7 linked regions of the Homo sapiens genome follow. The protein of the gene in region 3 purifies or fractionates together with the protein of the main gene of each other region. This does not show direct contact. Each region holds a gene or a part of one and is shown on either strand. Other genes may lie near its edges. The genes, in order: RADX, BLTP3B, RAB8B, ZNF280C, MICALL1, MOCS1 and MICALL2.

Region 1 (3,981 bases), on a different chromosome or scaffold from region 3:
ATTAACTCCTGTTCCCTCCACTTTATTTCCCCTTACTATGTTTTTTGGTCTCCCTAGCAAGGCTATACCCTGCCCAGACCAGACACTCAAGAAATCTGTATAGAATGAGTAAATTAGTTAAGTATTAATAACGGCAGGGCTCTTTAGCCCAAGCAATGAGAAGAAACTTGAGGGAAGGACCCTGACTACAGTTATCCCCAGTGGCCTAAAACAGTGCCTACCTCATATAGAGACTTCATAAATAGTGAATAAAGAATGATAAAATAGAGAGCCAAAGGAAATTAGTATAAACAAAATCAGCTCATAACCATCTTAAAAAGTATTCTTAGAACAATTACTCCCTTCTATGTATACTGGATCTAAGTACATCTATTAAATATTTTATCCTTAATTTTTACTATTCTTATCAGCTTTTTCACTTTACATTCGTTCCTGATATATGCCTTGCATTAAACAAACAAACATTAAACAAAGTTTCTGAAATCTCTACCCTAGATGTATATTAGGCCAGGTATTATATTAAAACTAGCTGCATTTTAAGAAGTCTAATCTAAAGGCAGCCCTTTACAAGCCAGTTCTAGTTTTCTATTTTCATTTGCACTTAAACACTAATTCACCCACCCTACACTCAGGGAGCCACTACAGATAATTATGCTAATGCTAATCGCAATAGCAGCTAATGTTTACTGAGGACTTTTTGTGCTAGAGTCTGTCCTGGAGGCTCTGCATAAATTATCTGGTTTTGTTCATACTACAGGAAACCCATGTTATAACATTAACATATGTTAACCAACTCTAAATTACTTTCTGTTCCTGGCCCAAAGCCCAAACCCCCAAATCCCTGAGCTTTGACTCTGCACCCTGATTCTTGCCACTTTCTCTTTTCCCTTGCCTCTAGGCATCCTCCTTTCCAGGGGACCACAAGCGCTCTCCCCCTCCCTCTTTGAGAACCATGACAACCACCGATTCCCCCTCCCCTTCCCCTGTCATCCCTCCCCCAGACGGCAACCCGGCGGGCACAAGGTCGGACGACCTGCTACGTAACTCGCGCGTGTGACTGCCTAGTAACAGTGTCTCGAGTCGGAAGCGCTCGGAGCGAGGGGCGGGGTGGGAGAGCTGGCGCGCGCACGCGTAAAGTCTTTGCAGCCTCGCTACGGGGCGGAGTCTTGCCTGTCAGCAGGGGCAGAGTAGCGATCGTCGCCAAAGCGCGCGGTTTTATTTCTCTCCGCTTTGGACGGGGCAAACTAGCTTTTGGGAGTGAAGCGGGTACGCAGTTATCCAACAATGTCTGGTGAGTCAGGACAGCCTGAGGCTGGTCCCTCACATGCAGGGCTAGATTGGCCGAACCCTGAGAGGAATCGGGCTGGGGTCCCGGGAGGGGTGATCCGAAGAGCTGGTTCCCAAGGGCCCAGGTCCTGGATCCAAAAGGTTCTTGAGCAGATTATGGACTCACCTCGCCAGTGTGTCACCCCCTCGGAGGTGGTGCCTGTAACTGTGCTGGCCGTCCAGAGGTACCTGTTAGAGGATGAGCCACGCGACACGGTGCCCAAGCCTCCCCTTTATTGCTATGATGTGACGATCTCAGATGGGGTGTACCAGGAGAAGTGCTACCTGGACCCCAGCTTGAACTCTCTCGTATATCAAAATATTCTTAAAGTTGGCATTCAAATGAGAATTTCCAGGGTCTCATGTCTTTACAATGAGAAAAGGATAGGCCAGGGGATCCTGTGCATAGATAACGTCCACTGTGGGGAGACTTCAGACAGTATTTCTTTAGAAACTCCCTTCAGAAATAGAGCGCACCAGGAGAAACCAGAGAGGCCTTTAAGAGGCGGGAAGAGTCATTACCTGGCGCTGTGGAATAACGAAGATCCCTATGGAGATATCTGGTTAACAGACAAGCAACCTGAGGAACACAACTTTAGCGGTAAGTGTTTGGAAAGAACGGCAGAGGGTTTTAAAAAAAATAGTTTTCAGGAGCTTGCGTGAACGGGAAAGGAAATGAAAATGCTTTTGTATTGTTAATTACAAGCCAGGAGTGGTAGGTAGACAAGTTTTCTTAAATGACCAAGGGATGCTCAATGAAATTTGCACAGCCAGTGGTTTTTGTTGGTGTTTTTTGTTTGTTTGTTTCTTTGATTGCAAAAGTGGCCAATTCAGGAAGTGTGTTTGACTACATCTTAAAATTCAGTCTGGCAAACGTACTGATGTGGGAGTCAGTATTCCTCATACGTTCGTTACATGTTTGATTGTGGTGGAATTAATCTTAGTTTTATTCCCAATCCAGTTGTGGAAATAGTACGTTGTGTCGGTTGAAGAGCTTATAGATTTGAATTTAGCATAAAGGTTGTAAAAATTTGCGGGTTTGCATGTTTTAATCTTCATTCAAAAAGGATGCTCCGTGATGTATTCCTTAATACTTTACATTGATTGAAACGCCGTGTAACAGTTATGTAAATATCACCTTTTAACGGTGTGATTTTTATGGGAAGGCTTGACATTCTCATTTTCTTGTTTCTTATTACTCACCACAAAGAGTACTGATCTGGGAACTTCAATTTTTCTGTATCAGAAGTAGGAAGTTAGCTTGAAAACACTAGCTTGCCATCAGCAACTGCTCTAAAATACGTTTTTTTTCTCTAACAGATGAAATTAAGGGGAATGATAGTACTGTAGGCATGAACACGTTTGAAATGGGGAAAGAAATAAAATGCAAAAAATAAAATAAGAGAAAGTACTGGAAGGAGAAAGACTATAATTTTCTACATTACTGCTTTTCAGTCCCTTTTACAATGTTGTCACAATGCTAAATCACGGATAATCTTACTGTGACGTGTAAGAGCAACAAACTTGAAAGTAAAAGAATAACTAGCTCAAAAACCATGCAATTATAGTCACATCCAGTTGTAAGGAAAAAAGATGTTATAGAAATGTGTAGGTAAGGATATTTTAAATAACTAAATTTTAAAAAGCAAGATAGCTATTTCAGGGATGAAAAAATGGAGTGATTTTATCTCAAGTGTGAAATAAGGCAGTAGTGCATTACTACTCTAAATGTTGATCACTTTAATTTTTAGAATTGAATATGTAAATGAAAAACTGGTGCCCTACAAGAAAAGTTGAGGGGATTAATACTTTGTAAAATGTATTTTGTCGTAATATCTATTCATTCATTAAAACCATATTTATAATACAAAAGGCAATGTCTGTATGCCAAAATAAAACCCAATCTGTATATTTGAAAGTATATTGTGTTAGAAATATACCACCAAAGTATAGTAAAATGTTAGTGATAAAATCTAGGAAGTGGGCATATTGATGTTCACTGTAAAATTTATTCAGTTTTGCTATATGTTTCAAATTGTTAATAATAAAATATTAGGGAGAAGTGAAAGACCTCTTTCACCTTCCCTAGTGCCTTCACCTTTCTTCTAAAAATCTCAAATTGTCAGCAGTTTGTTGTGTATTTTTTTAAAAAAAAGGAATTAATGTCGCATTGTGTGATTTGCTATTTCCACTGAACACATCTCAGGCATCTTTCATGTACATCTGTACATACAATATTCCATAGCATGGGTGTGCCATAATTTCTATAATCATGCCCATGTGAATAGGTAATTTGTAGTTTTAGGCACTTATTAGTGTTTTAGTATTACATACAATGATAAGCATCATTAGAATGTACACATATTTTTGTTTACTATGTTCAAGCATTGCTGTTGAACGGCTTCCTCTGGCGAAATTGCTGGCTTAAAAGGTATTTAATTTTTTTAATTTTGTGGATATAGACAGATCATCTTCTGAAAAGGTTGTACTAATTTACATTTACCAACATACATATGAGAATGCCCATTTCCCCATATCTTACTATTTTTAAATACATCTTTTGACATTTTTCTAATTAATTTATAGGATTCCTTTGCTAATGGGTATTAAAATTTTGTCTGCTATATACTGCAAATTATTTTCTTTCATTCTGTT
Region 2 (3,500 bases), on a different chromosome or scaffold from region 3:
GAGGTGGAGGTTACAGTGAGCTGAGATTGTGCCACTATTCTCCAGCCTGAGCAACAGAGTAAACTCTGTCTCAAAAATAAATAAATAGGCCGGGCGTGGTGGCTCACATCTGTAATCCCAGCACTTTCAGAGGCCAAGGCAGGCAGATCACGAGGTCAGGAGATGGAGACCATCCTGGCTAACACGGTGAAACCCTGTCTCTACAAAAATAAAAAAATTTAGCTGGGGGTGGTGGTGGGTGCCTGTAGTCCCAGCTACTCGGGAGGCTGAGGCAGGAGAATGGCATGAACCCGGGAGGCGGAGCTTGCAGTGAGCCGAGATCACACCACTGCACTCCAGCCTGGGTAACAGAGTGAGACTGTGTCTCAAAAAAATAAATAAATAAATAAACAAATAAAACCTGTCTTTTAAAATAAATTACCCAGCCCCATAATCTTTTATAGCAACATAAAATGGCCTGAGACATCCCCCAACTTTCAAGAAATGCTGAGTCAAAACATTATGTTCCTCTAACTTCAAAGGACCGCAGAGTCAAATGATTCTCAAGTCATAAAAGAATCTCCTAAGGGATACTACAGCAGGATGGTAAAACAAGAGTAGTGTTGAAAACTGGGTAAAAAGAAAAGCAAACTGTTGAGGTGGGGTGGGGGCGAGTAGGAAACACCTTAATAGGCAGCACAGAAAAATCAATGAAAAGGGTACTGGATCAGTGACTTTACCATTCAACACTATCTGTGAGACCTTGGACAAGTCACAAATGTCAATGTTTTAATAATTTCCTTCTCTGAGATAGGAACAAATCCCTTCTGATTCCAGGATTCTAGTATGCTAATATTGCAACATCTCCTAGACCAAGCACCCAACAAGAATCAGTATCCGGTTTTAGTTGGAAATTAATATGAAAGAGAAAGACACCTGCTATATACAGTAGTCCTCCCTTACCCAAGATTTCCCTTTCCACGGTCTCAGTTACCTGTGGTACAGTACGATAGCTTGAGAAAGAGAGAGATCACATTCATATAACTTTTATTACAATATACAGATATTGTTACAATTTTTCTATTACATATTAGTTTTTGTTAATCTCTGACCATGACTAATTTATAAATTAAACTTTACCAGAGGGATGTACATAAAGAAAAAAACACAATATACATATCGTTCAGTACTATCTGCAGTTTCAGGCATCCACTGGGGGTCTTGAAGTGTGCTGCCCATGGAGGAGGACTACTGTAGTGCATGTACTTAAAAGGATAAAAAAAAACAACAATAGCAAAAAATCCACCCCTGAAAATTCAACTCACAATTCGCTTCCCAGTAATTGTTTATTGCATAAGCCAAAGGATAACCACAAACATACTTCCATTGTTGTCAGACTAAAACATGTATAGTCTAAATTAGATCACAAATAAAAGAGAAGACATCTCCAATTAAATATCTAACATTTGGGCTGGGCGCAGTGGCTCAGGCCTGTAATCCCAAGCACTTTGGGAAGCTGAGGCAGGTGGATCACTTGAGGTCAGGAGTTTGAGACCAGCCTGGCCAACATGATAAAACCTCATCTCTACTAAAAATAAAAAATGTAAAAAAAAATTAGCCAAACATGGTGGCGGCTGCCTGTAATTCCAGCCACTCGGGAGGCTGAGGCAGGAGAATCACTTGAACCCAGAAGGCAGGGGTTGCAGTGAGCTGAGATTGTGCCACTGCACTCCAGCCTGGGCAACAGAACGAGACTCTGTCTCAAAAAAAAAAAAAAATCGAACTTTCATCCAACTTAACATATCCAAAACAAACTCCTGATCTTCTCCCATAAGCCTGCTCCTCCTGCAGTCTTCTCCAATTTTCCGATTTAGTTAATAGCAATTCCACCTTTTCCATTGCTTATGTTGCTTATGTCAAAAACTCTGGATGGTCACCCATTACTGCTCTCCTCTCTTCTCTATCAATCCACATCTTACCTGTCGGTCAATCCTGCCTTTACCTTCAAAATACACCTAGAACCTGACTATCACTATCTCAACAACTCCACTGCATCTGCCTTCGTTCAATCCAATTTCTCTCTCACCTAAATAGTTAACATCTCTTAATTGGGTTCCTGTTTCTGCCCTTGTGCTTCTATTATTTAATTCCCACATGGCTGCCAGAGTGATCCTTGGCTCAAGGCATTCCAGTGGCTTCCAATCTCAGAGTAAAAGTCAAAGTCACTACAAGGTCCCACATGATCTGGCCCTTGTTTTCTCTTTGATCGCATCTTCCTCTTCTCACTTTACTCTCTCCACCTATATTGGTGGTCTTCGTATGTTTTCAAAATATCAAACAAGTTCCCAGTTCTGGACCCTTTGCATTTGTTCCCACTATCTCTCTCAGGTCTCTTCTCAAATATTGCTTTCTTTTTTTTCTTTCTTTCTTTTTTTTTTGAGACAGGGTCTCACTCTGCAGGCTGGAGTGTAGTGGTGCTATCACAGTTCACTGCAACCTCTGCCTCCTGGGCTCAAGCAATTCTCCCATCTCAGCCTCTCTAGTAGCTGAGACTACAGGTGCGCACCACCACGCTCGGCCAATTTTGGTATTTTTAGTACAGACAGGATTTCACCATGTTGGCCAGGCTGGTCTCAAACTCCTGGCCTGAAGTGATCTGCCCGCCTCAGCCTCCCAAAGTGCTGGGATTACAGGTGAGACACCACACCCGGCCTCAAATATTGCTTTGTCAATTAAGCCTTCCCAATCACCAGATTTAAAATTGCAAACTCCATCCCCAATTTATTGTACTTCTCATCCCCTTTCCCTATGTTACTTTTTCAGTAGCATTTAACACACTGATATACTGTACTTACACAGTATTTCACCTATTTATGTACTTACTATCTGTTTCTGATTAAAACGTAAACTCCACGAGGGCAGGGATCTTTGCCTAGTGTGTTAACTGCTACATCCCCAGCAGTATGGTACAATATTTGGTACAAGGCAGGCACTCATTAAATTATTTTAAATAAGCAACTAGTACATACAGTGTCAAAATCCACATTATTAGAGATTATTTAAAAGTGAATACTGTCAGCCAGGCACGGTGGCTCATGCCTGTAATCCCAGCACTTTGGGAGGCCAAAGTGGGTGGATCACAAGGTCAGGAGTTCGAGAACAGCCTGGCCAACATGGTGAAACCCCGTCTCTACTAAAAATACAAAAATTAGCTGGGTGTGGTGGTGCATGTCTGTAATCCCAGCTACTCAGGAGGCTAGGGCAGGAGTATTGCTTGAACCCAGGAGGCAGAGGTTGCAGTGAGCTGAGATTGCTCCATTGTACTCCAGCCTGGGCAACATAGCGAGACTCTGTCTCAAAAAAAAAAAAAAACACCTCAAACCTACTCAAGTAAATTTATAATCCAAAAAACAATATTTAAATCAGTTTTTTTCCTAGTTGCAAAATCTAACAAATTTCATATAGCAATAAAATTTTTTTTATTTTTTTCTTCCTTTTTCACATCACCCGCAATGCCAGAC
Region 3 (3,976 bases):
TTGGGTTTCTGCCACTAGCAAATGAAAGGGGACTGAACAATACATCCACAAAACAGAGAATTAGCCTAAGACAATAAATAATAAAGGATTAACTTGAGTATAACAGAATGCTGTTTCCTCCCTATATTCGTCATCAATTAAGTGAGAGCCTACTGAAGAGTAATGAATATTACCATCACTGCTAACAGTGCCTTATGGGTTTCAAAGAACTTTCACATTTAGTATTTAAGTTTCACTGGAACCCTATGAAGTATCTTGTTTCATATCCATTTTACAGATGAGAAAACTGAAATGTCCAGTGCCTGTGTGACTTGTCACAGCGGTTTTGCAGCAGAGCCAAGACTAAATTCAAATCTTACTCTCTAAATTCCCGTGGCCCGCCTCACAGGATGCTTGCAGTTTCATGGGGCACAGACCTGTAGCACAAGACTTCCCAGATTTAAAAATCCATCCTCCTGCGAGGAGAGGGGAGCGATCAGCGTAGCAGATTCTCTAAATACTCATTGTATTTGGCTCTGGTCTGTGTGGCGTGAAGAAGGGGGCACGAGTGAGGTTCGAGTTAGCATGGTAACCATTCTTTCTCAGCTCTGTGACTGAGGGGCTGCGGGAGGGGGTTATAGTGGTGCTGGGCATGGCCTCGGGGAGAAGCTGGATAATGCCCTCTGCAGATAACCCGTAGGCTGCGCCACAGCAGCGCCAAGGAAAGAAAGCATCTCTGCTCCAGGTCTCGGCGGAAGAGATGCGGGAACTACGGGGCTCTGATTCTGAGGTCCTGGATTTGGAAGGCGTCTGCACACAAAGAAATAACAAAGTTAAGTTCCCGCGGCTCGACCAGCAGAGTACGAAACGGGGCCTCCCTTCCCAGCTCGGGTGGAAACGCCTCCACCCTGTCACCCCGCCCATAGCAGGTCTTTTATCCGCTGGAGCCGCCTGGACAGTCCTCGCGGGGCACGCCCGAGGCTCCCCGGAGGAACTACAAGTCCCATGAAGTCCCGGGGCGCGGGCGGTGATGACGAAGCCCTCGCCGATTGGCCGCACGGGGCGGGGCGCGCAGGCCTTCTCCGAGAGGAGGGGCGGGGCGTGGGGCGGGGCGAGCAGCGGCGGATTGGCGGGCACGCCCCCTCGCCCGCGGCCCCCTCCCCGCCTCTCTCCACCGCCTCCTCTGGCTCCCCGGTCAGAGGGCCGGAGCGAGAAGATGGCGAAGACGTACGATTATCTCTTCAAGCTCCTGCTGATCGGCGACTCGGGGGTAGGCAAGACCTGCCTCCTGTTCCGCTTCTCAGAGGACGCCTTCAACACCACCTTCATCTCCACCATCGGTGAGGGAGGGGCCGCGGCCCGGGACCGGGTAGAGAATTGGGGGGCGGGTACTAGGGGACGGGGAAAGGGCGGGGGGCGCTTGGGAGCCCGGGAGAGGAGACCCCGGGGACTGCAAGGTGGCGGGGGCACTGAGAGGGGCGAGGGCGTGAGGGAGAGGGGCGAGGGCGTGAGGGAGAGAGGCGAGCGGGAACGTGAGGCTAAGGGCGAAGGGGGAACTTGGGGGCAAAGGAACGGGAAGGGGAACAGAGGAACAAGGACTAGGGGTATTGGGGGAACGAGAGGGTTCGGAGACTGACAGGGAGGGGTCTTTGAGGGACAAAATGTGTTGGGGGGAAGACTCAGGAAATCTCATGTAGAGAGAAGGGGATAGTGGACGTGCCAATGATTAAAAGACAGGAGAGGAAGGAAATGTGAAGGGGGAAATGAGGGATGGGGGCAATGAGAGGGATGTGAAGTAAAGGGACAGAGGACACAAGGGACAGAGAGGTGAGAACCAGGCAACTGGAAGGGAATTCAGGGGAATGAGCGGTCAGGAGGTGAGGAAGAAGGGGACGGCTGGCCACAGGAGGTCTGGACTGAGATGTCGTAGGAGGGGACAGAAGAAAATTGTAGGTGGAAGAAGAGTTCAAGGGATCAGAGGGCAGAATGAGGATACTTGATGGAGAAAGTAAAGGGATCTGGGTGTGAGACAGAAAGGAAAAGAGGAAGCAACATCATAGTAAAGGGAGGTTGAGCAGAGAAGACAGAGGAGATGGAAAAGAGAGGAAATGGAAAGTAGTGGGGCGCAAGACTTGCTATAGTAACTGATTACCATTTTCTCTTCACTTCCTTTGGATCAAGTGCAGGAGAAAGCAAAATGTGACTAATGATGGAATAATGTCTATAGAGCGTTAATTTGTTCTGTGAGTGTTAATGGATGTTAAGGGAATTGGTGACTTTTGGAAATGATGTGGTCAGGAAAATATGGTTCACCTCTTTACTACCATCTCCTGAGAAGCAAGACTTCTCAGTATTTTAAATCCTTCGGTTTGAATGTTTAACAGCTTCTCAGCCAAGGAAATGAACTTACATTCTACCTGCCTCCCTGTATATTTTGCTTTGGTTCTAATTATTGTTAAGTGAATCACAACATGTGATATACCTCTCAGTTACTTCCAATTGAATCAAGAGTTTTTCTGATCCTGGCTGGGAGCTGTCCTTTCTACTTTTGTACTGGAAGACACTGTGTTCAGGTAATAAGATCTCTTAACTTATCATAAACTGAAGACCAAGTCAAAGCTGGTTTTAAGCTGTTTTAGAAGTGACCACCTTAACATCATTTCTCCTGTTAAATAGTTGCAGGTTAATTAAGTACCTTAAGAATACCTCAGCTTTTGGTTGTGTTGGTGATGTTTCTGGCCTCTAATAGTGGCTTATTTAGTCATCTTTCGTATGGTTCTTACAGCATATTTCACCATGAATTTCTGGGTTGGGAAATAATAGAGAGCTAGTGCTTTGGTAATACGTGTGTTTAAATATTTGTGTATTTTTAAGGATAATTTATCTTTTTTTAAAAAAAGAGTATTTGGTATAGAACACTCTTTAAGTATTAGTAAAGGCTATGGTTTGTTTGCTCATTCTGGATTCTTTCATATAGATTGAATGGTCTAAAATCTCCTGGGTGTTATGATGTCTGGGCTTAGGGAAGTTTGAATTGCAAGTTCTTGGCAGTCAGTCTTGAGTGGGACTTTTTCTTTTCTGAAAAAGCAGATTTTAAATGTCATCTCTCAAGTATATTCCTAAGATTTGGTGGTAGCTGCTGGTACAGCAACTAAAGGGTGTTAATTTTTGACATTTGTATTAATTTCAAAGCCTCAAATAACAATTTTTCATTGTTGAATGCATACTGCAGTACAGATGGTAAAGGATAATTTCTAACAAGTTGAGTGGGTGTCCTTTTGTCCATTCTGTATTTGAGCCTCCCAGAAGTATCTCCTGCCTTGAAAGTAAGTGAATCTCGCTGATGCTGTTTTTGTTAAGCTTCTTGGACGACTTGCTTGTTTGTAATAGTTTTATTCGTTTTCTCTTTTTCCCTTAATTTTTGTCCCATGTTTCCTGTAAGGGTATCTGGTTCCTTTTAAAATAGTAGCTTTTAAAAATTACTTTTCATTTTGAAGGGTTCAAGTCTATCAGTGGATTTCAAAAAATGATGGAAATGAGGTTCTTTGGAGGGTGACAGCTATGAAGGCATGAAAACCAGTGTCCTGAAACAGATTAGAATAGGAAGTGAACATGAAAAGGAGGTGAATCTCATGTGACATCTTGGTCTTTATATTTTCTGTGAGGTGGATGTGGTAAAAAGAGGTGTGAGCTGTGTCTTCAGTTGACGTGGAGGAGGGGAAATCCCATACCTCTTATTTAGCCCCAGAGCTCCAACAGGAAGTGGTAGCACACTGCCTTCAAACTGCAGAATTTATATACACACTGCCTTCAAACTGCAGAATTATATAGAAACCTAATGCTCTGCAGTCAAAATTAAGCTGGGAAAATAAGGTGAATGTTAGCACCATTCTGGTTCCACAGACTCTTCACTGATTACAAGTATAGATTTTGAGTGTTGACATCTCTAGCAGCCACTCCCTCCATGCCCCTCACCTCATTCCCAGGTGATCTGAAG
Region 4 (3,500 bases), on a different chromosome or scaffold from region 3:
TTTTTTGAATATATTATCTTTATCCAGAGGAATTACATTAATGGCTAAGAAGGTATTATGTATTAGATGTATAGAAATGTAACTTTAAAACTTGTTTTAAGTTCTGTAAGAAGAGTTTTGCCAATTCTTTATGTCTTTGAAATCAGAATCCCTAAGCTAATGTTAATGATAGGCCCAAGACAGAGCATGTAATAATGTCTAATGGTCTGGACAAGTATGAAATTAAGAAGCTACCAATAAGTAGCTACACGAAATCTGTAGACAATTCTAAGAAATGTCTTGGAGTTTGTAATAAGAACAAAACAAACACAAAGAGAAGAGTTCAAAAGTAGACATAAAATGGACATCAGCAAATTTCATGAATCTGGGACAAAGAAGTGATGGAAAAATAAAATAGAGTAAAATAAATTTAAGAACAATATAAAACCTAGCTACCAAAATAAAATTAAAAAAAAAGTTTAAAAATGTGAGTATCGGTCGGGTGCAGTGGCTCACACCTGTAATCCCAGCACTTTGGGAGGACGAGGCGGACTGATCACGACGTCAGGAGATCGAGACCATCCTGGCTAACATGGTGAAACCCTGTCTCTACTAAAAATACAAAAAATTAAAAATTAGCCGGGCGTGGTGGCAGGCGCCTGTCATCCCAGGTACTTGGGAGACTGAGGCAGGAGAATGGCGTGAACCCAGGAGGCGGAGCTTGCAGTGAGCCAAGATCGCGCCACTGCACTCCAGCCTGGGTGACAGAGCAAGACTCTGTCTTAAAAAAAGAAAAAAAATAAAGTGAATATCAGTATTGCTGAAAATTCCTAGAATATTGGATAAAACTTTAAATGAAAACATGAATAACTGACTTTGGGAACTGTAATTGTAGAAATTTTGTTTTTCCAAAAACAAGAAAGTAACCTTGGTTCCCAATACAACCAGAATTTTGATATTCCTTGGACTGCATGCCTGCTAGAGGAAGATTAAAGAACAGCAGCCAAAATGGCTAAACGTCAGCCTGGATGTTGAAGCACTGATCTAAAAACAATATAAAACCAAGCTACCAAAATAAAACAAAATAAAATGTAAAAAATGTTTAAAAATGAGAATATTAGTATTGCTGAAAATTCCTAGAATACTGGATAAAACTTTAAATAACATGAACAACTGTGTCTTTGGGAACTGTAATTGTAGAAATTTTCTTTATCCAAGAACAAGAAAGTAACCTTGGTTCCCATACAATCAGAATTTTGATATTCCTTGGACTGCATGCCTGCTAGAGGAAAATTAAAGAGCAGCAGCCAAAATGGTTAAACGTCAACCTGGATGTTGAAGCACTGATCTCATGGACTTTTCTTGGTTAGAATCGACCCATAAGCTTAAGATCAAAAGCCAAAGCTCCCAATGGGAAGTTGTGCTCTATTTGGTGGGCCTTGAGGTCATCTCTGGCCAAATCAGCATCAGCCTTATGGGAGGTCAGTCAGGTAGGAAGGGACTCTCCCCAAGATCTGATTTCTGAAGGCCACAAACTAGAGGACGTCTCACAGTCAAATAATTCACATTTCTTGGAAAGAAAGAACAGGTATCAGTTGTGTCCATCAAAAGGGGACACTGTCCAGGAGTACCCTGGATATTTTTTGAAACTTATGTGTTGCTTCTTCATTTGAAAAATATGAAAAATAGAACAGTAATGAACAAGGAATGAAGAAAAAATGGTTATCTGACCTAAACATGTAAGACTTATAAGAAATTAAGAAAGCAGACAAAACAGACAGAAAAAGATGAACAGTCATATTATCTGGAATGTAATATTCTGAAGGCAAGTCAAGTATAGCAGAGAAAAACAAAAGGCATTTTTGGAGAGAGCCAACTGGAGAAAAAAATATGTTAAGATATGTTAACCTGACGCAAAGATAAGGTGGAATAACAATGTAGTGGCATCTGAAAGCTGAAAAGAGCTGAATAATGAGAGCTAGTGTCATAAACTTGGCTGTTTAACTGCCCTTTGTGTGAGAAAATACTTCAGAACTTTGAACTTAGGAACTTCCAACTTGTCTTGCACCAGGTTGCATGAACTCCATGGAGCAGGAATCTATTTCAATGAGCAGCTTTAAGAAAAAAAAAAAAAAACTTTAATATTTTTCATTTATATTAATATTAATGATTCATTAAAAAATACAACAGTGCTAAAGTCCATCAAAGCAAAATGCACTGAAGGAAAATTAAACTTACCCAGTAGTGGGTTCAGAAGTTGAGGTACTTTTGGAAACTGAAATCAAAAGAGTTTTACATTTACAATAGCATATATGAAGAGTGAGACTATCAATTTAATACATGGGTCCATATGGTGTCCGATCAAAAGTACTGAAATAAATATCAGAAAATCAAAGAAACACAATTATATATACGTACCATTCTCTATTATAACTTGGCAAGTATGAGTTTTACGTTGACTTAAGTGTTTAGCCATACGATCTAAGCCGGAAGAATCAGCTAGGAAATCACATTTAAGGCACACTAGAGTAATGCCCCTATGAAAAAAAAGAAGACAGTAAGAAATATTCTTATCATTTATGAAAATCCATATGAGCTCAATAATTACTTTTCCATGTACTAACTTGATTTGCATTTTAGTCTCCACAACCGTCATTTTCCAATTTTGTTATATAAACTTGATATATTTAAAATAGTTCTCTAGAAAATGGCATCGCTGGCCAGGCACGGTGGCTCATGCCTGTAATCCCAGCACTTTGGGAGGCAGAGGTGGATGGATCACCTGGGGTCAGGAGTTCGAGACCAGCCTGACCAATATGGTGAAACCTCGTCTCTACTAAAAATACAAAAATTAGTCAGGCATCATGGCGTGAGTCTGTAGCCCCAGCTACTCTCAGCTACTTGGGAGGCTGAGACAGGAGAATTGCTTGAACCCAGGAGGCGGAGGTTGCAGTGAGCCAAGATTGTGCCACTGCACTCCAGCTGCGAGACTATGTTAAAAAAAAAAAAAAAAAAGGAAAAGAAAATGGCATCGCCATATTCAAATTACGCTAACATTTAGTGCTTTATAAATTGTCACCTCTCAACTTGTTGCTGAAAGCTAGGCATCAAGAGACTCAAAGCCAAGTCTCCCTTAACAACTTAAGTAATGTGTGCAAGTTATTACTTACAAAGCAAGGATATAATATTCATTCACTGAAATATATAAATATTCATTTGCTGACAACCTTCTTCACCCACACTGTACTACTAGGTATTGTAGATATAACAGTAAACAAAAAAGGTACAGTGTGTGGATTCTGCAATCTAGTATCTTAGTCAAATGAGGATAAAATTAGAAAAGAAATGTGAAGGTTTTAAAATCCTGTAATTATCAGTTTATTAACAAAGCATACATATACTTTTGAAGTTCATCAGATACTTTAAACTTAAATATTTCACCTCTATAGGAAACCAGTGCATACCTTGGATTGACTTCTTTAGTTTTTTTTTTTTTTTTTTTTTTTGAGACGGAGTCTGGC
Region 5 (3,500 bases), on a different chromosome or scaffold from region 3:
CCTGGGGTGACAGTGGGACAGGGGTTCCCCACAAGCAAGTGCACCCGGGGTTCTGCCCCCTCCCTCTAACACACCCAGAGGGGCCAGCAGAGCCAAGCAGCCCAAAGCCCCTGAGCCCCTCAAAGGTTTTCAGCCTTTTCTCAGCCCCAAAACTTCAGACCAATATTCACGCAGCCCAGGACACGAAACACGAGAATCCGAAGGTGACCCACCCCCGTGCCCTCCACCACCAAGGAACCAGGGGGTCTTTCGAGCACTCAGGACACTTGGTGCCGCCAGCCCCTCACCATCTGTGGGAGCCCGAGGCCCAGAGGAGGATGGGGCCTGCTCAAGGACACACAGCAGGTGGGAGGCAGAGCCAGAATCAATGCCCAAGAGGCTCTTGCCGGGACCAGGGAAGGTTCAACGATGCCTGAGGCACATGGGCAGGGTCAGGCTACAACTTCAGCTGCCCCACAAAGGCTGTCCTGCCACCCTCTACCTGGGGCCAGATGAGCCTTGGGAGCTCAGAGGCCTGCAGAGCGTTGGGCCATCCAAAGGCGCTGTGGCTGCAAGACAGGGCCCTCATGAACTGGGTGCCCAGAGGAAAGTACTGAGCCCAGGCAATCCCCAGGTTCTCAGTATGGGGCTGAGAAACAGGTGAGCCCACAGCACACAGCATACCTGGAACAGGAGCAGCCTGGATGGGTGCCCAGCCAGAACCTCCCCACGCCCATGTCACCTGAGAAAAGACAGAGCCCAGCAAGGGAGCAGGAGGACAGGATAGGGCCACGTCTGCTCTCCTCGGTAAACACCCCTCATGGCACACAACAGAAGCACCCAAGAAAGCTGTGTGTCCTGGGTCCTTCTGCCTGTTGAGGGCTGACCCCCTGCCCACTACAAACTCCACACACAGCAGCATGTACATTATAGCACCTCCCCCTGACCTGGCTGGGAGCGCCTTGGGGACAGGGACCACTATGTCCACATGACCTGTGGAGCCCAGGCAGCCATGCACATGGGAGGCATTCAGAGACCCCAGCTCCCCTGTTCCATGGCGGGGAGACCCAGGTCTCTGCAGAAGGGAGTGAATCCCTCCCCTCTGTGCTCTACTCTAGGTCACCTTCCAAAATGCCCATTATGCCTATCTCCCTGAGCAGATCGTGAGCCCCTGGAGGCCAAAGACAGGGTCTTTTTTTTTTCTGAGACAGAGTCTCATTCTGTTGCCCAGGCTGTGGGCCATCTCAGCTCACTACAACCTCCACCTCCCAGGTTCAAGCAATTCTCCTACCTCAGCCTCCCAAGTAGCCAGGATTACAGGTGCCTGCCACCACACCTGGCTAATTTTTGTATTTTTAGTAGAGATGGGGTTTCACCATGTTGGCCAGGCTGGTCTCAAACTCCTATCCTCAAGTGACCTGCCTGCCTCAGCCTCCAAAGTGCTGGGATTACAGGTGTGAGCCACCACGCCCAGCCAGGATAGGGTTTTAATACAACTCTGCCCAGGGTCTGGCATCAGTAGAGCCTGAGTGAATGGAAGAGCGGACAGACAATACGGGATGACTGGTGGCTGGTGAGTGGAACCCAAATAGGCAAGTGGAGGGGATGGGAGGCAAACAGGGGCCCTGATACATAAGACCTGGGAGGCTATGTTTGTGGACAGGTGGATAGATAGGTGGGAGCTCTGGCAGATGGATGGAAGCATGGACAGACGGGTTTGTGCCTCATTGGACAGAGTGGGTAATGGGTAGATAGACTGGCCAAGGCCACTCAGGAAGTCAGAGGCCAGTAAAGATAGAAAAGGCCCTAGACAGCCGGGGGCAGTGGCTCACGCCTGTAATTGCAGCACTTTGGGAGGCCAAGGCGGGTGGATCGTGAGGTCAGGAGATCGAGACCATCTTGGCTAACACGGTGAAACCCCGTCTCTACTAAAAATACAAAAAATTAGCTGGGCATGGTGGCGGGCGCCTGTAGTCCCAGCTACTCGGGAGACTGAGACAGAAGAATGGTGTGAACCTGGGAGGCGGAGCTTGCAGAGAGCCGAGATCACACCACTGCACTCCAGGCTGGGTGATAGAGCGAGACTCCGTCTCAAAAAAAAATAAAAAAGAAGGCCAAGCATGGTGGTTCATGCCTGTAATCCCAGCACTTTGGGAGGCTGAGGCAGGCGGATCACGAGGTCAGGAGATCGAGACCATCCTGGCTAACGGGGTGAAAACCCCACTCTACTAAAAATACAAAAAATTAGCCGGGCGTGGTGGTGGGCGCCTGTAGTACCAGCTACTTGGGGGCTCAGGCAGGAGAATGGCGTGAACCCAGGAGGCAGAGCTTGCAGTGAGCCAAGATCGCGCCACTGCACTCCAGCCTGGGTGACAGAGAGAGACTCCATCTCAAAAAAATTAAGAAAAGGCCCTGGACATTTCTGCCCTGAGACCAGACCCGCATCCACTAGAGAGGATGTCACTTTTAGTGAGGGTGAGGGGGCACTCACCTTTACCTGCAGCTGTGGGGACGAGCTTCCAGGGGAAGGCACCGGGCTCCTGTCTCCAACCAACAAGAGAGGCGTTGGGGTGGCGCCACTGCAGGGCTTGGCTGGCTGGGGACCTGAGCTGCCCCTGGTCCTGGGGGCAAGGCCAGGGCTGGCTTGAGGCATTTGTTCCACTCTAGGCTCCACTAGTTCCCCAGAGGAGGCCAGGGAGGAGTTGGTAGAGAGGCTGACAGGGTTTCCAGGGGTACCAGGGGCATGGACAGCAGGCTCTGAGGAGCTCTTGGGCACAGCTGGCGGCTCCAGAAGCTCTGCACCTGCAGTCTGGCTGGCGCTCTCAGACGACAGGCTCTCCACGCTGAGCGCTGGCGATGGTGTGGCCGAGGGCGGCTCCGAGTGCGAGAGGCGGGAGGCGTGGAGAGCTGTGCGGACGAGCACCAGGACACCTCACAAGGGGAGCACCACAAGGGCTTCCAGCCCCACCTCCCGGCTCCACTCTCAACAGAGCCGCAGGCAGCCCCAGAAACCCAAGCCCTCCACATCGAGACAGGGCCAAGGCCCAGGGAACAGCAAACGCCCGGCAGGACGGAAGTCATGAGGTGCATCCAGCCACCCGAGTCCAACCCGCCCGCCTTGCGTTCTGCCTGCTGCCTCCACTTCCCCACACTCCCCATAGCCCCCATGAGGGCACCCACAGCAAAACCACCTTGGGAATGCCAGAGGAAGAGAGGTGGCCCCTCCTCTGCCCCTGATCTGCAGTGCGGAGGCAGAGGGGAGGAGCACGCAGCCCTCGCAGCCACCAGCTCTGGGACAGGCACTGCCGGGCACCAATTTATCTCCTCGTGGCTGATGGATATGATGCTTCCAAACACATTATCTGCATTTTCCAGATGAGGCAACAGGCTTAGAGAGGAGAGGGCACTCGCCCCAGCACGGGGTGGGACTGAATCCACTGTATCTGACTCCAGAGCTCATGCTCCTCTGCTGTCCCCTGAAGCTGCCCACCACTTCCACCCAGACAGGCCAGCCTCAGCTG
Region 6 (3,500 bases), on a different chromosome or scaffold from region 3:
GCTGAGGGCTGCTGGGCATGACAACTTAAGGTCAAACTTCACTCAATGCTTCTCAGCTTCTGTAAGAGGGATGGATGAGACAGCCCCAGAAATCAATATACCTACCATCCTTCCACCAAAACTTATGAAGCATCTACTCTGTGCCAGCTCTGCACAAGGCACTGTGGCCACAGAGAAAGAAGAATGTCTGAGAAGCTTCTGCAGGCAGAGACCACTGGAGAAGATACCAGTGAAATCTAGGATAGGTCTAACTGCTTCAGCGTGCCTGTTATTCCTCATGCCTCGCTCCCCAACCAGCCTCCAGGTTCCCTTCTCTGCAACAAAGAGGTTCCTCCTGTGGACTTCACCTGGTACCACCCTCCCCTCCCGCCCCCCAGCTGGCTCCTGCCTGGGAGATCAATGGGTAAAGGGAAAGAACAATCTTCAGGCATTTCTCCCCTACTTCCTCCCTGCTTTGATGTATCTGGCAGCAGCTGCTTCTCTGCACAGCTCAAGTGCCAATGAGGTGGCCTCTCTTCTAAGGCTCCAGCCCTTCCTGGGCCCCAGTGACATCAGTGCCTCCCCCTTGCCCTTCCTAAGTGGGAACAGCACTTTGCTGCTGCTGGTCCCAAGTACCTCAATATCCTTTATTGGTTCCCTTAATCTTATATGTTATAAATAGCTTCTTCATTACATTCTCTTCAGAATCCCACCTTCCATTTCCTGCCAAGACCTCACAGATACAGATACCACCTCTAGTCCAAGTCAATTCCGTATCTCCAGCCCAGAAAAACCCCCAAGCTTTTCAGCAACCTGCTGGATGGTTCCTTTTGGATTCAAACTGCATGCATCTAAACCCAACCCACCATCATCACCCTCCCACAATTGTAAAAGATCCCAAGGCCTTCCAGCTACCTTGATGCCTTCCTCCTCTCCTTCCGCGAACATTACCAAGCTCTCTGAGTCTTCCTTCCCTTCAATTCACACTCTAACATATTTGGAGAACCACTGAATGGCCACCTAATTGGTCTTCCTGCCATCACACCCAGCCTGTGGCTTATAAAACATACATGGGGGATGTCTCCCCTGTTCAGGAACCTTACGCAGCACACTATTGTCCACAGAACACATTCTGAACCAAAGCCCCCTACAATGTAGTCTTCCCATAGCTGACTTTAATCTGCCCTAGCCCGCCCAACCAGTATGAACCCTATGTATGCACCCTCCCCTCCCCACTTCTGCCCCACCCATTCTTCAAGGCTCGCTGAGGTCTGTAGTGCTCTTGATGCCCTGCACTCTCACAGGCTATCTAGCCACGCGTGTGGCAAGGACTCTCGTGCTGCCACACATTGCCTCTGTTTGGTCTTGCCTGTGAGTCTGCATAGCCCTGACGAGAAGGGGTCCCGACATCCCCCACAGGGACGAATGCACAGGACATGCTTGTTAGATATGAGTAACATCCATTTCTGGTTTCAGAGCTGAGCCCCTGGCCTGGTGGAAGGGGCTAACCATGGCGGGGGCCAGGCAAAATGCACATTGATCCTGCAGCTCCATGAGAGCTGGAAAGGAGCTCCCAATAAACCAGAAGCTACTTCAGGGCCCCACAGAAGGAAGGAAGGAATCAGGGTGACATTTCCAGAGGGGCCATGAGTTCACCCTCACCTGCTGCTCCCATCATGCCCCCAAACCTGACATTATTGCACCAACCACCTCCCCCGACACCGTGCCCTGCCAGCCTCCTCTCCAATCAGGGAGCACAGGTGGGAGGAGACATGAGAACACAGAGGTGGCAAGGGGTCCCTGTGGAGGAGGGGATGCTCACCTTGAGGTTCCCATCAGCTGTGATTCGCAGGCGGTTGCAGGTCCCACAGAAATGCTCAGACATGGATGTGATGAAGCTGATCTGGCCTTGGAAGCCAGGGATTTTAAAGGCCTGGGCAGGGGAGAGTGGGAGCAAAAGGGCAGTGGAGGGGATGGGCTACTGAGCCCAGTTTCTCACTCCATGACATCAGAACCTCCACTCCTCAACCCTCTCCCAGAGGACCCCACGTGAAGCTCCACCCAAGGCCCTCAGGTGATAGAAGACTCTGGTAGGATGGATGACCCATGGGTTGACCTATGCCTGGCTTGCCCTAGATAAAAGCTGCTAAGGCAGGGACCTGTGGGCAGCATGTTTAGAAAAGTCTGCGTGGAAGCGGGATGAGCACCCCTCTCTGCCACTTCCTGGAGTGTGTCCTCTGACATGTTACTGAGCCCCCCACCCTAGCCGAGCCCACATCTTCATCCATGAAACAGGGAGGTGGTTGTGATAGCACTGATGCTTCCTGCTTAAATGGTACCATCCCACATCACAGCATCCCCACCACAGTGCAGCTCCCTGCTAGCTCTCCATCCTAGGGTGGAGGTACGACCTTCCTCCAGGCCTGCCCCACACCCTCCTGCTCCCTAACCTTGGCTGTGCTGGATTCCTCCTCTGGCACCTTCTCCAGCTCTGGCCACTGCTGCCGGACAGTGTCTAGCATCTCCTTATAGCTGACCATCTTCTTGAAGTTCCACTTGTTGCCTGTATTCGGGATGGGGGAAGGCAAGGGGAGCTTCTGAATCACAGTTGAAGGGGCCCCGGGGTCTTTGAGTCCATCCCCTGCCACAGCATAGCAATCAGTTCTCCAGCCTCTTGGAAGGGAGGGACGGGGGCTCTGCCTAAAACTGGTGGATTGAATCACATCCACAGCGGGCTCCGAGAAGCCACCAACAGCCCATCATAATCCTAGACTCACTGCCCCTGAGGTCAGCCATACCCAGTGGGTGAGCCACACTATGCGACCTGCAGGCCCAACCCCTTCTTCCCTCCCTCAACCCATCCCTGGTCACTGACCATCAAAGGGCATATACTCTATGAAGCGCACATCCAGGGGGAGGCCCTCAGTCAAGGCCGCAAAGTCCAGGAGTTCATCCTCGTTAAGGCCTCGCATCACCACACAGTTCACCTGGCCGGGGAACAATGGGACCATGAGGGCTGTGCCCCCTGCATTCTTTTGTGGAGATGACCCTTGGGGGCCTGGCACTCACTGAGGCCTTCCACTCAGGGACCCATTCCTTGCTTCTCCCACTCAGTTCTCTAAGTTACGGGATTCCTTGGGGTCACTGATTTTCTCGTTTCTCTCAAGGGTCGGCAGGGCTGGACCAGCAGGGAGAGAAGAGGTGGAAGGGTGCACGTACTTCAGCCATGCTGGCCAGAGCTGAGGGCTCTCAAGTGGGCCAAGGGGCGGTGAGGGGAAGGCCAGGGCAGTGTGGAGGGAAGTCGGGAATCTACGGCAGGGGCACGGCCTCACCTTCACAGGGTTGTAGCCCAGCTCGATGGCCTTGTGGATGCCCTCCATGACCTTGTGGAAGCCTGGGAGGGAGAAACAAGGATCCAGGAACTTCTGTCCTCTCTCCTCTTCCCCCACACCCCCACAGAAAAGCACCAGAGCCCATCTAGTCTGGAGATTGGCAAACGTTTTCTAAAACAGGCCAGAGTA
Region 7 (3,500 bases), on a different chromosome or scaffold from region 3:
GCCCGATGCACCCGCCAGGCCCTCCCCAGATGCACCTTGCTGTCCCCGAGCTCACACCCCCGGGGCCCCTGAGCAGCTGAGCTCAGGGGCCCGATGCTGGCAGAAATCGCCGCCAGAACCGTCTCGCAAGCCCCACCAACATCGCCAGGTGGAGACCCCACTCGTGTCTCCAGGAGCCCCCCAAGAAAATGACACATTGGAGCCCTAACCTCCAATTCCACCACGTGACCTTATTTGGAGACAGGGTCTTTCTGGAGGTGAGAATTCATTTTGCCTCCTTTGGAGATAAGAGAATTCAAACAGGGTTCTTTGCGGGGAGCCCTGGTCCCATGGCTGGTGTCCTCATAAAAGGGAAATGTGGATGCAGATACAAACTGACAGGGGAAGAGGATGTGAAGGCACAGGGCGAAGACGGCCACCCCAGAGCCAAGGAGAGAGGCCGGGAAGATCCTCCCTCCTGCCCCCAGGAGGGCCCAGCCCTGCTCACACCTCCGTCCGGGACGTTGGCCTGCAGAACTGCGGGAGGACACTTTCCGTTGTTGAAACCGCCCGTTTGGGGGACCTTGCAAGGGCAGCTTGAGCAGGTGGACACCCCTGTCCTTGCCGGACAAAAATGCATCAGCTTCCCCCCACTCAGCAAGTGACCAGCTACCCATGGTGAGACGGCTGGAACTGGGACACAGCCCCAGCCACCGCTGCAAACCTGCAGGCTGTGGGATGGGGGCTGCAGGTTGCCCACCTCCGAGACATGGCATCCTCCAGGGTTTAATCTTCTCTTATTTGAAGCCTCAGAATTAAAATCAGGTATACCATGGCCCGGCTCCAAGACACACACCGTGGGCCAGGCACACAGTCGGTGCCCTATAAATGCGTGTGATGCATTTGTTCTGTGCTTGGTGAGATTTCTGTGGCAGTAACTTATTCTTTCAACACTGGCTGAAGGAATGAATTTGCCGTCTGTGTGTCGGTCACAAGATTTGCCCTGGCCAACTCTCCACCGTGCGTGCCCCTGCCCGGCCACACCTGCCCCCACCACCCCTCTAACTGACCCACGACCATCAACTTCAGCCCATGGAGTCCAGCCGGCCTCTGCCCCGGCGCCTCTGGGGGCTCTTGGGAATGTATACCCCCCTCCAAATTCCTGGGTGGCCGACATCACACTGTTTACTTCCTGGAACAAGATTCCGCCATGGAGTGGGGAGGGCGGGGGGGTGCAGGACTTGGAAGGGAAGGAGCCCCAGCCGAGGCACATCCAGCACATCAGGAGAGAATCCCACGGAGAAGGGAGCAGAGGGAGTGGGGAGAGGCAGGTGGACGGACAGAGAGAGCTGGAGAGAGAGAGGAAGACCCCAGCGGAGATGGTGGAGGGAGGCCCAAGAGAGACAGGGACCAGATGGCACAGTCGGGATGGCAGAGAGGGGACTCGGGGAAGGAGCAAACCTCAGAGACAGCGAGGACATGGCCAGGCAGAGCTCAGGAGAGGAGGGGGTGGGCAGGGGGCGGTGACGACTGGGGAGGGGAGGCCGCAGAGCCCCCACCTTGCACACTGGGCCTCTGGAAGGAAAGTGTGGGGCCCTGGGCAGTCCCCCTGCAGTAGGTGGACAGGCAGCCCCCTCCCGCGCCCGTCCTGGAGGGTTCCGGCCAGAGGCGGCCACAGAGGTCTGGCTACAGGCCCTGGGGCAGGAACAGAAGGCCTCTGTCCACAAGCAGCTTCCTGCTGACCCAACCCCGCGTGGGAGAGGAGGTCAGCCCACCCTCGGCCCTGGCCCAGGAAGTGAGGGCACTGCCTGGGAGCTTCTGGGTGGGGGCCTCTGCGTGAGTCTCTCCCCTGGCCCCCAACAATAGTGGTGTCTCGGGGAGCCCCGCCACCCTTGGGAGCCACTGCTGGAGGGCTCCATGCACTGCACAGCGGCCGCCCCAGCCACCCCCACTTCCTGGCCCAGCCCTGAGCCCGCCTCCAGAGCTGCAGGGACCAGGAAAACTTAAGGGACCCTGCCTTGGAACTGAGGGTGCAGCAGAGACCCAACTTCACGACACCCTCCCAAGGCCTGGCCACAAATCCGACAAATGCCCCCAGCCACGAACCCCAAGAAGGAGGCCGCAATGTTCTCCCACCTGCTGGACGGCTTCCTGCGCCACGCACAACGCCTGCCCTCCCTCCAGCCCTGCTCCCTCCCAGCCCAGACACGCTGTGCCCCCTGCCCCATCTGCCCGAGGGCTGTGCCTGGAGACCTGCTTGGGCCCAGGAATGAAAGGAGCCAGCCCATGGCAGAGCTGCTCCAGCCCCGACAGGCTGACTGGCTGAGGGAGGTGAGGCGGGAGGTGGGGCTGTTTGTTCTGGGTGGTTTCTGAGCTCACCTGGCTGCCCAGCTGCCCTGTGACACCAGTATGGAAACAGCGCCCGGGGGCAGGCGCCCTGAGGCCTGGCTGCAGAGAACCCACAGCCGCAGGTGAGACAGGGCAGGCGGGCACAGGCAGGCTGACCAGGCAGGGGACCCGCCCACCCTGCCACCTCCTGGTGGGCGTGGCTGGGCGATCCTGTTTCCTGGCCGTAAAGCGGAGATTCACGGACACCTCTCTGTACCTGTGGGGCTCCCCAGTGTGGTCACACGTGGCTCAAGGAGCCGGAACATGGTACACAGGAATGTCCGGATCCCCGCCCCCTCCACCCGGGGTCGGTGGGGCAGAGGCAGAACCAGGAGCCCGGGTGCCCCACCTGGCTGGCCTGGCGCCCGAGCTGGTTCCTTCACAGCTGCTCTCCCTGAGGGCCAAGCGGAAGTGCTCTCTGCGTGCAGCAGGAAGGACTAAGGCCAGACAAAGGGAAGGACTTCCTGGTGGCAGAGCTACAGACAGGGAGACAGGACGTCCACCCTTCTGCTGTCAAGGGGTCTTCACTGGAAGGAGAGGGGAATGAGGTGGCAAGGGCGGGGCCTCACACAGAGTCTGACCTCAGAGCTGCCCTGAGAGGACAACCGGTCTGTGCCTGTCCCTCACACGCGTTTCCTCCCTTCCTGAAGACTACTGGGGACAGGAGGGACAGCCAAGGGCTGCATGAGGAGACCTCCACCCCAGCCACCACCTCATCCAGAGGTACGGCAGGGAGCAGAGGCTGAGGGCACGGGATGGGGGTGATGAAGGCACAGAGGCAGGCACGTCCAAAGAGCCAGGGGCCAGGCGCGGCGGCTCACATCTGTAATCCCAGCGCTTCGGGAGGCTGAGGCAGGAGGATTACTTGAGGCCAGGAGTTCAAGACCAGCCTGGGCAATATAGCCAGAACCCATCTCAATTTAAAAAAGAAACAATATGCTGAGTGAAAGTAGCCAGACACAGGCCAGACGCAGTGGCTCGCGCCCATAACCCCAGAACTTTGGGAGGCTGAAGAGGGCAGATGGATCACTTGAGGTCAGGAGTTACACACCAGCCTGGCCAACATGGCAAAACCCCGTCTCTAGAAAAAATATGAAAATCGGCTGGGTGTGGGGGTGCACCCCTTTAACCCC

The links.
Region 1: the proteins of RAB8B (region 3) and RADX purify together in Homo sapiens (affinity purification with mass spectrometry; one large-scale study listed by BioGRID and IntAct). This does not show direct contact.
Region 2: the proteins of RAB8B (region 3) and BLTP3B purify together in Homo sapiens (affinity purification with mass spectrometry; 2 studies listed by BioGRID and IntAct, with this or other methods). This does not show direct contact.
Region 4: the proteins of RAB8B (region 3) and ZNF280C purify together in Homo sapiens (affinity purification with mass spectrometry; one large-scale study listed by BioGRID and IntAct). This does not show direct contact.
Region 5: the proteins of RAB8B (region 3) and MICALL1 purify together in Homo sapiens (affinity purification with mass spectrometry; 2 studies listed by BioGRID and IntAct, with this or other methods). This does not show direct contact.
Region 6: the proteins of RAB8B (region 3) and MOCS1 purify together in Homo sapiens (affinity purification with mass spectrometry; 2 studies listed by BioGRID and IntAct, with this or other methods). This does not show direct contact.
Region 7: the proteins of RAB8B (region 3) and MICALL2 purify together in Homo sapiens (affinity purification with mass spectrometry; 2 studies listed by BioGRID and IntAct, with this or other methods). This does not show direct contact.

What each region holds. Positions count from the first base shown.
Region 1 is NC_000023.11:106,610,797-106,614,777, forward strand, and holds the start of RADX (RPA-related protein RADX), read left to right. Parts: upstream 1-1,181; 5' UTR 1,182-1,284; coding exon 1,285-1,927; intron 1,928-3,981.
Region 2 is NC_000012.12:100,132,875-100,136,374, forward strand, and holds part of BLTP3B (bridge-like lipid transfer protein family member 3B), read right to left. Parts: intron 1-3,500. UniProt on the Homo sapiens protein: Tube-forming lipid transport protein which mediates the transfer of lipids between membranes at organelle contact sites. Required for retrograde traffic of vesicle clusters in the early endocytic pathway to the Golgi complex.
Region 3 is NC_000015.10:63,188,430-63,192,405, forward strand, and holds the start of RAB8B (ras-related protein Rab-8B), read left to right. Parts: upstream 1-1,176; 5' UTR 1,177-1,195; coding exon 1,196-1,319; intron 1,320-3,976. UniProt on the Homo sapiens protein: The small GTPases Rab are key regulators of intracellular membrane trafficking, from the formation of transport vesicles to their fusion with membranes.
Region 4 is NC_000023.11:130,202,900-130,206,399, forward strand, and holds part of ZNF280C (zinc finger protein 280C), read right to left. Parts: intron 2,517-3,500; coding exon 2,398-2,516; intron 2,255-2,397; coding exon 2,218-2,254; intron 2,094-2,217; coding exon 2,078-2,093; 3' UTR 1-2,077. UniProt on the Homo sapiens protein: May function as a transcription factor.
Region 5 is NC_000022.11:37,926,797-37,930,296, reverse strand, and holds part of MICALL1 (MICAL-like protein 1), read right to left. Parts: exon of another isoform or gene 3,358-3,500; intron 3,342-3,357; coding exon of another isoform or gene 3,171-3,341; intron 2,887-3,170; coding exon 2,471-2,886; intron 1-2,470. UniProt on the Homo sapiens protein: Lipid-binding protein with higher affinity for phosphatidic acid, a lipid enriched in recycling endosome membranes. On endosome membranes, acts as a downstream effector of Rab proteins recruiting cytosolic proteins to regulate membrane tubulation.
Region 6 is NC_000006.12:39,910,463-39,913,962, forward strand, and holds part of MOCS1 (molybdenum cofactor biosynthesis protein 1), read right to left. Parts: intron 3,374-3,500; coding exon 3,312-3,373; intron 2,967-3,311; coding exon 2,855-2,966; intron 2,543-2,854; coding exon 2,430-2,542; intron 1,913-2,429; coding exon 1,802-1,912; intron 1-1,801. UniProt on the Homo sapiens protein: Isoform MOCS1A and isoform MOCS1B probably form a complex that catalyzes the conversion of 5'-GTP to cyclic pyranopterin monophosphate (cPMP).
Region 7 is NC_000007.14:1,452,971-1,456,470, forward strand, and holds part of MICALL2 (MICAL-like protein 2), read right to left. Parts: intron 2,458-3,500; exon of another isoform or gene 2,359-2,457; intron 1-2,358. UniProt on the Homo sapiens protein: Effector of small Rab GTPases which is involved in junctional complexes assembly through the regulation of cell adhesion molecules transport to the plasma membrane and actin cytoskeleton reorganization.